Regions from separate parts of the Homo sapiens genome. Here region 2 is linked to region 1. Evidence: fine-mapped expression QTL. A gene starts in region 1. The other region holds a variant in brackets. All regions are shown on one strand. Distances are between the middles of the regions. Region 1 holds the start of KLK4 (kallikrein related peptidase 4). Region 2 overlaps LOC105372441 (a long non-coding RNA gene).

Region 1 (5,221 bases):
GGGCAGGTCAGTTTTGTGGCAACTACATCCTTACCTCCATTCTCATCTTCAACCCCATTCCCATCCCCATCTCCTAACCCCAACCCCACCCTCTTCGCTAAACACCCTAAGAGCTACTTAACCATGGTCTCAAATCCTCATTCACAAAAATTCAGGGACAAGAACTTGCCTTAGTTCACTAGAGACTCAGCACTGGGCTGAGATTTCAAGTCAGGACTCTCTGAGTCCTTCCGAAGCAAGATTCCCGCCTCCCAGCCCTTCCCTCTGGGGCTCCCCGGATCCAGGCTCATTCCGTCCTCCTCCCAGAGCCTTCACCGCTGTTTCCCCCTGAGCACCCCAAGATGAGCCTGATATTAGGCCCCGCCCCCGGACCCAGGCCCTGCCCACTCCCCCTACCTCTGCACTCACTTCTGGAAACAGTGTGCGGCTGACAGCACCCACTGCGGATGCACCAGGACGCCCGAGCAGAACAATTCGTTTTCCATGACCAGTGCCGCCTGCCAGGGCTGCGAGTGCGGGCTGCAGTCCTCGCCGTTTATGATTTGGCTGCAGCTACCAGAGACGAGCGATCCTGAGGGCGGAGTCAGGGATGGGATCGGGACCAGGAGGCGGGCCCAGGGTTCCTGGGGGTGGGCTTACCGAGCAGGGGCGTGGTCAGAGGTTCAGGAGCAGTCAGGGCTCCTCGGGGCGGAGTCAGGGCTGGGAACGGGCTCAGGAGGCGGGCCCAGGGCTCTTGGGGGAGGGGTTACCGAGCAGGGGCGTGGTCAGGGCTTCAGGAGCAGTCAGGACTCTTGGGGGGCCGAGTCAGGGCTGGGGGCGGGCCCAGGGGGCGGACCCAGGGCTCCTGGGGGTGGGGTTATGGTGCAGGGGTCATGATCGGAGCTTCAGGGGCTGGTCCAGGATATAGGCCTAGGGCTCCCAGGGGCGGTGATCACGGTGCAGGAGCCTGGTCAGGGATTCAGGGTAGTCAGGGCTCCTGGGAGGAGAGTCAGGGCATGGGGGTGGGCTGAGAAGGCGGGATCAGTGCTCCTAGGGTTGGGGTTACAGCGCAGGGGCGCCATCAAGGCTTCAAGAGCTGGGTTATGGCTAGAGGCAGTCTCAGAAGGTGGGACCAGGGCTTCTGGGGCGGAGTCAGGGCTCTGGGGTGAGCTCTGGAGGTGAGACTGGTGCCATCGCGGTGCAAAGCCACGGTCAGGAGGGGTTCAACAGAGGAGTCTAGGCTCATAGCAGTAGGATCGGGTCCTTCGGGGTGAATTAAAGCTCAGGGGGTGGAGTTGTTGCTGGGAGCAAGGATCGGGTCACTTGTCTGCGCAGACTGATGCTCAAAGAGTCGGTCCTGCGCCGAGTCACTCCTATCCTCTCCCAGCCTTGCCCACAGTCACACCAAGCCACAAGCCCATGCACACCAAAACACCGTTTTATAGTCCTGTGAGGTGAGTTCCTTGGGGATGGGAGAGGGGGATCTCAGGACTGAAGACCCAGGAAGCAGGCACAGATTCCCAGCAATGGATCACGCCCCAGGAAGCACAATCTCCTGCACCCTCGGCTTCCCCTGTCCCCATATCATCATTACACTGTTGTCACTCCACCAGATATTCAGAGGCACAAACTGTCAGAGTCTCACAGGTACAACCACACACCCAGGCACACTGCCACACACAAATTTACCACGATACAAGGAGTTGCAGGGGCACAGCCATGGGGGACGGATAACACGGTACCGTCTCACAGGCAGCTTTGCAGTCACAAGCAAGAGGACACTGAGTCACACCTGAACATTAACAAACACTGTGCCCCCAAGCACGGACAGACACACACACGCATACTCAGATACCTGCGACACCAAGGATGAGGTACCCCAGGAACCAGCCCCAGGGATTTCCTGCTGTGGCCATCACGTCAGCACCTGGGGATGAGGACTGAGACTTAGCCGTGTCTGGGGATCTTCAGCCCAAGTCTCTCCATCCCTCTCTTTGTCCCTCCCTTTCTTCCCTCTGGGACGTTATTAGGTAGGCAAGAGCCTAGACCATCTACCCCCTCTCCCATCCATGGACCCAGAACCTAGAGAGACAGATTTAGAGACTGAGAGAGAAAAAGAGAGAGAGAGATGGGAAAAGAGAGAGAGAGAGAGAACTAGGTAGAAAGGAAAGTTTAGAGAAAGCATCTAGCCATCTGTGAATGGGGAGAGATGGTGTCTAGCCACCCACAAACAAGCATGGAGGGAAGACACACAGAGAATCAGAGCCGGAGAGACAGAGTGCTTGAGAGATATCCTCAGAGACAGTCTGAGAGTTAGACATGGAGATATAGATTCAGAGAGACAGAGAGACCCCTAACTAGAGACAGTGACTCCTAACTAGAGACAGTGAGAGATCTGTCTAGAGAGATGTGGAGACAGAAGGCACAGAGGCTGAGAATCCAGCGACATGGAGCTGTAGGGAGAGTTGGATCATGAACACTGCAGGCTTTTAGTGGGGGACCACCAGGCCTCTTACCCGGCCACCTCTGGGCTCCTGGATTCCACTGCTGGGCTGAGCTCCAGCCTGCTGCCTCCCGCAGGGGCCTCCTTGGGGCTTATAAGCATCCTCAGCCTGGGCTGGCCTGCCCCCAGGGGATGTGTTCCAGGGGTCAGGTGCTGCAAACTTCCAGCTCAACTCTCTCAGGCTGCCTCAACTCTGACCAGGCAGTGGTTGGGGGCCCAGAAGGGGCTGGCAGCAGGGTCTAGGGACCCAGGGAGGAGACCCCTGCCCAGATCCTAGACTCCACTCTCCTTTTTCTTTCTCTCTCTCTCTCTCATTCTTTCTCTTTTCATGTTCTTATTCTCTCTCATGAGATACCTCTCTCTTGCCTGTATCTCTCATTTTCTCTTTCTCTTCTTCTTTCTTTCTCTCATTCTCTCTCTCATTATTTTTCTCGTGTTTTCTTTCATTTCCTCTCATTCTCTCCTGTTCTCTCTCATGTTCTTTCTCTTTTTAAATTAAATCTCTCTCTCTCTCTCCCCTCCTCCTTCATCCCTCTCTTTCTGTGCTTCTCCAGCAAATTTCCCCAGGTTCGTATCCAGCCTACATCACGAACTATTTTTGGAACCTTGGGCAAGTGACTGCACCCCTGTGAGCCTGTTTTTCCAACTGTAAAACTGGAGTGACCATTATGCCCCATTTCCCAAGTGGATTCAAAGAGGTAATTCAGGGAAAGGCACACAGTGCCAGGCACATTGTAGGCTCTCGGTGAGCGGGAGAACTAAAAAGTCTTCGCTCAGTGAAAAGCAGCTGAGTGCCTACCACACTCCGAGCTCTGCGGCAGGTGCTGGGGCCACAGGAGGAACCAGCAAAGTCCTCGTCACTGGGGATCGCGTCCTACCCGGGGGCACAGACCATAAAGGAAAACTGCAGGGACCAGCATATAAGGTGGTGGTCGGGGAGACTCAGAGAAGGGGAACATTTAAGCTGAGATCCCAGGGAAGAGGAGGAGGAGGGTCGCCGCAGCAGGGGCGGTTGCGGGGTGCAGGGGAGAACTTGGCTCCAGCCAGAGGAGGGCAGGGCGGGTAGGAGGGCAGGGCGGGTAGGAGCGCAGACCGGGAACCGGGCGGGCCTGCAGGAGTTTACGTACCAGGATTAAGGAGCTTGGGTTTTACTTAAGTGCAATGGATTTTAAGCACGAGGATGGAGTGACATAATCTTATTTACTTTTTAAAAACTTCCAGCTTGGAGAGTGATGGTGGGGGCGGGGCGGGGGGCAGTGGCAACAGCCCAGGTGGGAGGTGACGGGGTCAAGGGAGAAGAGAGGTGAATGGACACGGGGTCCCCTCTGCATGTGGAGCCAAGTTACTGCCCGATGGATGGAAAGTGGGGGGCCAGGAGCAGAGGGGCCAAGGATGGCGTGGAGGCTTGGTCTGCTGGCTTGCGCTCTACGGATCTTGTGGAGACGCATAGGTGCGGGAAGGGGGGTGGGGGGTGAGAGGGTGCCGTAGACCGCGGAGGGTGCACGGAGGGGCAGGCCGAGGTCAGGACTGCCGAGAAACAGCGGGGACTCATCAGGGGAGAGGTGGTGTTTACAGCCACGAGGCCGGGTGAGATCATCCAAGGAGTGGGTGGGTGTAGACCGCGGAGCCGGCGCGGGTGAGGGATAGTGCCCGCAGGTGACCGCGACGAGGCAGGAATGTCTCTGTGTCTCTCTGTCTCTCCTGGGTCTCTAACACTCTTTCCTTCTCCTTCCTTACTTCTTTCCCCCACAGCCCACCCCGTGTGTCTGTCTCTCTTTCTCTCTGGCTCTCTTTTCCTCTGCCTCTCTGGTCCCATCTCTGTCTCTCTCCCCCTTGTCTCTGTTTCTCTCACCTGCCAGACTGGAAGCATCCCAAGTGAGACCCTCCCCCAACTCTGTCCTGGGCCCGTGCGCCCCCAGATAACTCTGGGCAGGACGGGACATAGGCTGGGACCACAGAACAGGAAGCCCTGGCAGGTTTCTGTCTCTGTCTCTCTTTTCCCTGTCCCTGTCCCTTTCTCTCTCTGATCCCTTCTCTCTCGCTCTCCCTCTGACCTCTGTCTGTGACCCTCTGATCTCTGTCTGTCTCTGTCTGCCCCTGTGTGTCTCTCTTTCCTCCTGTCTCTGTCTCACCTTGCCTTCTCTCTCTGTCTGTGTCTCTGCACCTGTGTCTGTCCATCTTTCTCTGTGTCTCTCTCCTCCCATCTCTGTCTCTGTCTGTGGCTCCGCACCTGTCTCTGTCCATCTTTCTCTGTGTCTCTCTCCTCCCATCTCTGTCTCTGTCTCTCTGTCTGTCTCCGCACCTGTCTGTCCATCTTTCTCTGTGTCTCTCTCCTCCCATCTCTGTCTCTGTCTCTCTGTCTGTCTCTGCACCTGTGTCTGTCCATCTTTCTCTGTGTCTCTCTCCTCCCATCTCTGTCTCTGTCTCTCTGTCTGTGTCTCCGCACCTGTGTGTCTGTCCATCTTTCTCTGTGTCTCTCTCTCCTCCCATCTCTGTCTCTGTCTCTCTGTCTGTGTCTCCGCACCTGTGTCTCTGTCCATCTTTCTCTGTGTCTCTCTCTCCTCCCATCTCTGTCTCTGTCTCTCTGTCTGTGGCTTCGCACCTGTCTCTGTCCATCTTTCTCTGTGTCTCTCTCTCCTCCCATCTCTGTCTCTGTCTCTCTGTCTGTGTCTCCGCACCTGTGTGTCTGTCCATCTTTCTCTGTCTCTCTCTCCTCCCATCTCTGTCTCTGTCTCTCTG
Region 2 (5,221 bases), 69 kb before region 1:
CGAGTAGCTGGGACTACAAGTGTGTGCCACCATACCTGGCTAATTTTTACGTTTTGTTTTTTTTTTTGTGGAGATGGGGTCTTGATATGTTGCCCAGGCTGAGATTGTAAAAAGTCATCATGGAACACCCCACCTCCCAGTGCAGGAAAGCTGGCTGTGGTATTGCCAAGAATGATGTTTATTGCAGCACTATTCCCAATAGCTAAGATTTAGAGACAACCTAAGTGTCCATCAACAAATGAATGGATACAGAAAATGTGGTACATATACACAGTGGAACACTATTCAGCCATCAGAAAGAATGAGAGCCTGTCATTTGCAACATGGATGGAACTGGAGGTTATGATGTTAAGTGCAATAAGTCAGGCACAGAAGATAAACTTCACAGGTTCTCATTTATTTTTGGGAGCTAAAAATTGAAACAATTAGCCGGGCACTCACACCTGTAATCCCAGCACTTTGGGAGGCTGAAGCAGGTGGATCACCTGAGGTAAGGAGTTCAAGACCAGCCTGGCCAACATGGTGAAACCCTGTCTCCACTAAAAATACAAGAATTAGCCAGGCGCAGTGGCGCGTGCCTGTATTCCCAGCTACTTGGAAGGCTGAGACACAGAAGTGCTTGAACCTGGGAGGAGGGGGTTGTGGTGAGCCAAGACCTCTCCAGTGCACTCCAGCGACCTGGGAGACAGAGCGAGACTCCATCTCCAGAAGCCTGGAGAAATAGGGACAAAAAACAAAAACAAAACCAACTGAGTTAATGGAGATAGACAGTAGAAGCATAGTTATCAGAGGCTGGGGAGGGTGAGGGTATGTGGGTAGTGGGGAAGTGCGGATGGTTAATGGGTACGAGGAAATAGAATAAGATCTAGTATTCGATAGCACAACAGGGTGACTGTGGTCAATAATAATTTAATTGTACATTTAAAAACAACAAAAAGAATATAATTAGATTGTTTGTAACACAAAGGGTGAATGCTTGAGGTAATGGATACCCCATTTACCCTCATGTGATTATTACACATTATATGCCTATATTAAAATATCTCATGTACCCCATAAATATATCCACCTGCTATGTACCCACAACAATTACAAATTAGCAAAAAAAGAATAATGTGGCTCTTGCCAGGTTTCAGCTCCACCCTTGCTGTGTGTGTGGCGCGTTGCGTCCCCAGGTCCCTCTCAGTGGTCCGTGGAGAGCATTACCACCTGTCACTGTCTACTATCTCAGGGCAGACCCTCTCTCCTCTCTCTTCCTCCATCTCTGCACCCCACAAATAAAGTGGCAACCCCCCCGATGTGTGTCTTTGCAGAACCTGAATGTGATGAGATTGCCAGAAAATGCCAGTGTGCCCCTGGATGGGTGGAGGAGGGTGGGGCGGGTGGAGGGGACAACTTTGCCCCATTGGGGAACCACTGGGCTATACCTGTCACTGAAGCTTCCTTTCTCCCCTGCACCTGACTCCACACCTCAGGACGCAGGTCAGGAGGGCTGGGGGATGCTCTAGCCTTGGCCAGGTGGGCCTGGAGATGATTGTTCACTGCAGGAGCATTCACCTTTTTAGATGGGTGCTTCCTGTCTAGAGAAGGAGACACGGGGAGCTGGAAAGAGAAGCCTGCAGAAATAGGGACCGGGCAAAAACAAAGGAGGGTGGAGTCGGGGAGTGTAGAAGAGATAAAGTAAGGACTGGAGTGAGGAAGAGGCATCAAAAGAGGGAGGGAATGGTGAAGGCAGAAAACCGTGAGAAACGGGGAGTGAGAAGATAGCATGAGAAAGACAGGATCAAGTCAGGCGTGGTGGCTCACGCCGGTAATCCCAGCACTTTGGGAGGCTGAGGCGGGCGGATCATTTGAGGTCAGGAGTTTGAGACCAGCCTAGCCAACATTGTCTCTACTAAAAATACAAAAATTAGCCAGGTGTGGTGGTGTGTGTCTGTAATCCCAGCTACTCAAGAGGCTGAGGCAGGAGAATCGCTTGAACCCATGGTGGGGTGGAGGTTGCAGTGAGCCGAGATCGCACCACTGTACTCCAGCCTGGGTGACAGAGTGAGACTCTGTCTCAAAAACAAACAAACAAGCAAACAAAAAAACCAGGTAAACTGAGGCTGGGTTTTGTATCCCAGACCAAATGCCTGCACTTTGAATGCCTGGTTGGGAAGCCTGAGATTATCCTGTAGGGAAGCATCGAGAGCATGAACTGAATGGTGTTAGGAGACAATTATCCATGGCTCTCTTACCTTTCTGCCTGTCTCCTGAAAAAGGTATTAGCCACTTTTGAGTTCCAGATTGTCTTTTTATGGATGTTTCTCTAGAGCATCAGAGCATGTTTGTTCACTGTCTTAGATAATAAAGATAATGTCCTTCCATAATGATTTATTTATTGGCTAGGATAGTAAATACAACATGTCCTTCCGGGGCAGGTGGATCAGCAGTCCGA[C/G]ATAACAAAGATAATATCTCTCCGAGTTTCAAAGTCAAGCAGATTTCCTTGCATCTCCCTTATAAGATTGAAGATTTGTAAATACATGTAAACAGAGGTTCCCCAGCATTGACGCAAACCACTGTGTGCGCAGCATCTGCCTGAGCCACTCTGATCATCCCTGTAGGACCTGGGGGGCAAGGTGAGCCCATGTGAACATGAATCTCATGCTGCCGGCTGTGCCATGAGTAATAAAGTCCTTTGTCTCTGACCCGGAGTTGTTGTGTGTTCTGCCAATAGTTTCACTGGATACAAAATTCTTGGCTGATAATTGTTTTGTATAAGGAGGCTAAAGACAGGACCACAATCCCTTCTAGGTTGTAGGGTTTTTGCTGAGAAATCTGCTGTCAATCTAATAGGTTTTCCTTTATAGGTTACCTGATGCTCCTTCATCTTGACTTTAGATAACCTGATGACTATGTGCCTAGGGGGGTCATCTTTTTTTTGTTTTGTTTTGTTTTGAGATGGAGTCTCACTCTGTTGCCCAGGCTGGAGTGCAGTGGTGCGATTTCGGCTCACTGCAACGTCCGCCTCCCGGGTTCAAGAGACTCTTCCGCCTCAGCCTCCCGAGTAGCTGGGATTACAGGTGCGTGCCACCACACCCGGCTACTTTTTTATATTTTTAGTAGAGAAGGGGTTTCACTGTGTTAGCCAGGATGGCCTCGATCTCCTGACCTTGTGATTGGCCTGCCTAAGTCTCTTAAAGTTCTGGGATTACAGGCGTGAACGACTACGCCCGACCAGTGGTCATCTTTTTGCAATGAATTTCCCAGGCGTTCTTTGAGCTTCTCATGTTTGGATATCTAGATCTCTAGCAAGGCCAAGGAAGATTATTCCCCTCAAATATGTTTTCCAAACTTTTAGATTTATCTTCTTCCTTGGGAACATGAATTATTCTTAGGTTGGTTGTTTAACATAATCCCAAACTTCTTGGAGGTCTTGTTCATTTTTTAAAAATACTTTTTTCTTTGTCTTTGTTGGATTGGGTTAATCCAAAAGTCTTGTCTTTGGGCTCTTAAGTTCTTTCTTCTACTTGTTTGATTCTATTGCTGAGACTTTCCAGTGTATTTTGCATTTCTCTAAGTGTGTCCTTCATTTCCAGAAATTGTAATTGTTTTTGATTTACGCTATTTCTCTGGAGATTTTTCTGTCCATATCCGGTAACACTTTTTAAAATTTCTTTAAGTTGGTATTCACCTTTCTCTGGTGCCTTCTTGAGTAGCTTAGTAATTGATCTTCTGATTTTTTTTTTTTCTGGCAATTTCAGAGATTTCTTTTTGGTTTGGATCCATTGTTGGTGAGCTGGTGTGATCTTTTTGGCGTGTTAAATAACCTTGTTTTGTCGTATTACCAGAATTGGTTTTCTGGTTCCTTCTCCTTTGTAGACTATGTCAGAAGGAAGATCTGGGTCTCAAGGGCTGCTCAGATTCTGGATTTAGCTACCCAGTGGAGCGTCTGCGCTCTGGGCTGGTACTGGGGGGTGTCTGCAAAGAGTCCTGTGATGTGATTCATCTTCAGGTCTCTTAGCTGTGGATATCAGCACCTGCTCCGTTGGAGGTAACAGAGGAGTAAAGTAGACTCGCTGGGGTTCCTTGGTTGTATTATTTTTTAGTGCGCTGGTTTTGTGTTGGTTGGCCTCCAGCCAGGAGACGGCACTTTCAAGACAGCATCAGCTGCAGTAGTACAGGGAGGAAAACAGCTTGCCCTAGGGTTACCTGGATAAGTATTCAGGTTTCTCAGGTGGAGGATGGGGCCAGATAGCTTCCAAGAGAGTATGTCCTTCGTCTTTGGCTACTAGGGCAGGTAGAGGAACACCATCAGGTGGGGGCAGGGTTAGGGGTGTCTGAGTTCAGACTCTCCTTGGGTAAGGGTCGCTGTGGCTGCTGTGTGGGGGTGGGGTGTGGTTCTCAGGCCAATGAGGTTATGTTCCCAGGGGAATTATGGCTGCCTCTACTGCATCATGTGGGTCACCAGGGAAGTGGGAGAAAGCCAGCAGTTTCAGGGCTCACCCAGCTCCCATGCAGCCCAAAAAGCTGGTCTCATTCCCACTGTGTGCATCCCCAATCAATGCACAGTTTGTTTGCAGGCAGCAGGTGCGCAGGGCTGGGAACTCGCCCCAGGCTACAAGCCTCCCTGCTGAGAAAGCAAGCAGGGCTTTCAGGTTTCGTGCCTCCCCACCTGCTGCAGCTTCTGTGCTCATGTCTGCACTCACAGTTCACCCCCTCCCCTGAGTTCTGTCCAGGAAACTTCGTGTTCAGTTGAAATTGTTGCAAAGTTCAGCTGGAAGCTTCCTTCTCCCTGTAGTCTTTCCCCAATTCCGTTGGCAGCCCTCCCCAAGGACCCCTGTGAGATGAAGTCAGAAATGGCTTCCCTGGGGACCAACAGTACCCTCAGGGCTCTTCCTGCTGCTTTCTCTACCCCCCGTATTTCATTCAGCTCTCTAAGTTCATCTCGGCTCCAGGTAAGGTCAAATCCTTCTCCCATGATCTGGACCTTCAGATTCCCCAGTGAGGATGTGTGTGCAGGGGCGGATGATCCCCCCTTCACACTTTTCACACTTTGAGCACTCACAGTTTTTCAGCTGTCTCCTGGAGCCTGCAGCAGCAATGTGCTTCCTTCAAAGGGTCTGTGGGTTCTCTTGGCTTTCCTGGTATGTTCCTGCAGTAGTTCTTGGAGCAAAAATTCAAGACGTGAGTCTCCACATGCTGCTCTGTCCATCTGAGTGGGAGCTGCAAGTTAGTCCTG

Evidence for each region. PIP is the estimated chance that this variant, and not a neighbour inherited with it, causes the effect.
Region 2: its variant is fine-mapped to the expression of KLK4 in lung (TOPMed, PIP 0.99).

What each region holds. Positions count from the first base shown.
Region 1 is chr19:50,908,844-50,914,064 of GRCh38, forward strand. It overlaps KLK4 (kallikrein related peptidase 4), which reads right to left and starts at 2,552. Exons shown (of 6, transcript NM_004917.5): 1 at 2,496-2,552; 2 at 1,835-1,906; 3 at 409-571. The coding sequence starts at 1,895.
Region 2 is chr19:50,839,875-50,845,095 of GRCh38, forward strand. The region is part of intron 2 of LOC105372441 (a long non-coding RNA gene); the gene reads left to right. Among named protein-coding and RNA genes, the nearest start is that of KLK15, 8.9 kb to the left of the region's middle. RefSeq lists a silencer at 546-733 and enhancers at 4,019-4,541, 4,542-5,063. The variant C/G (reference allele first, on the strand shown) is at 2,438.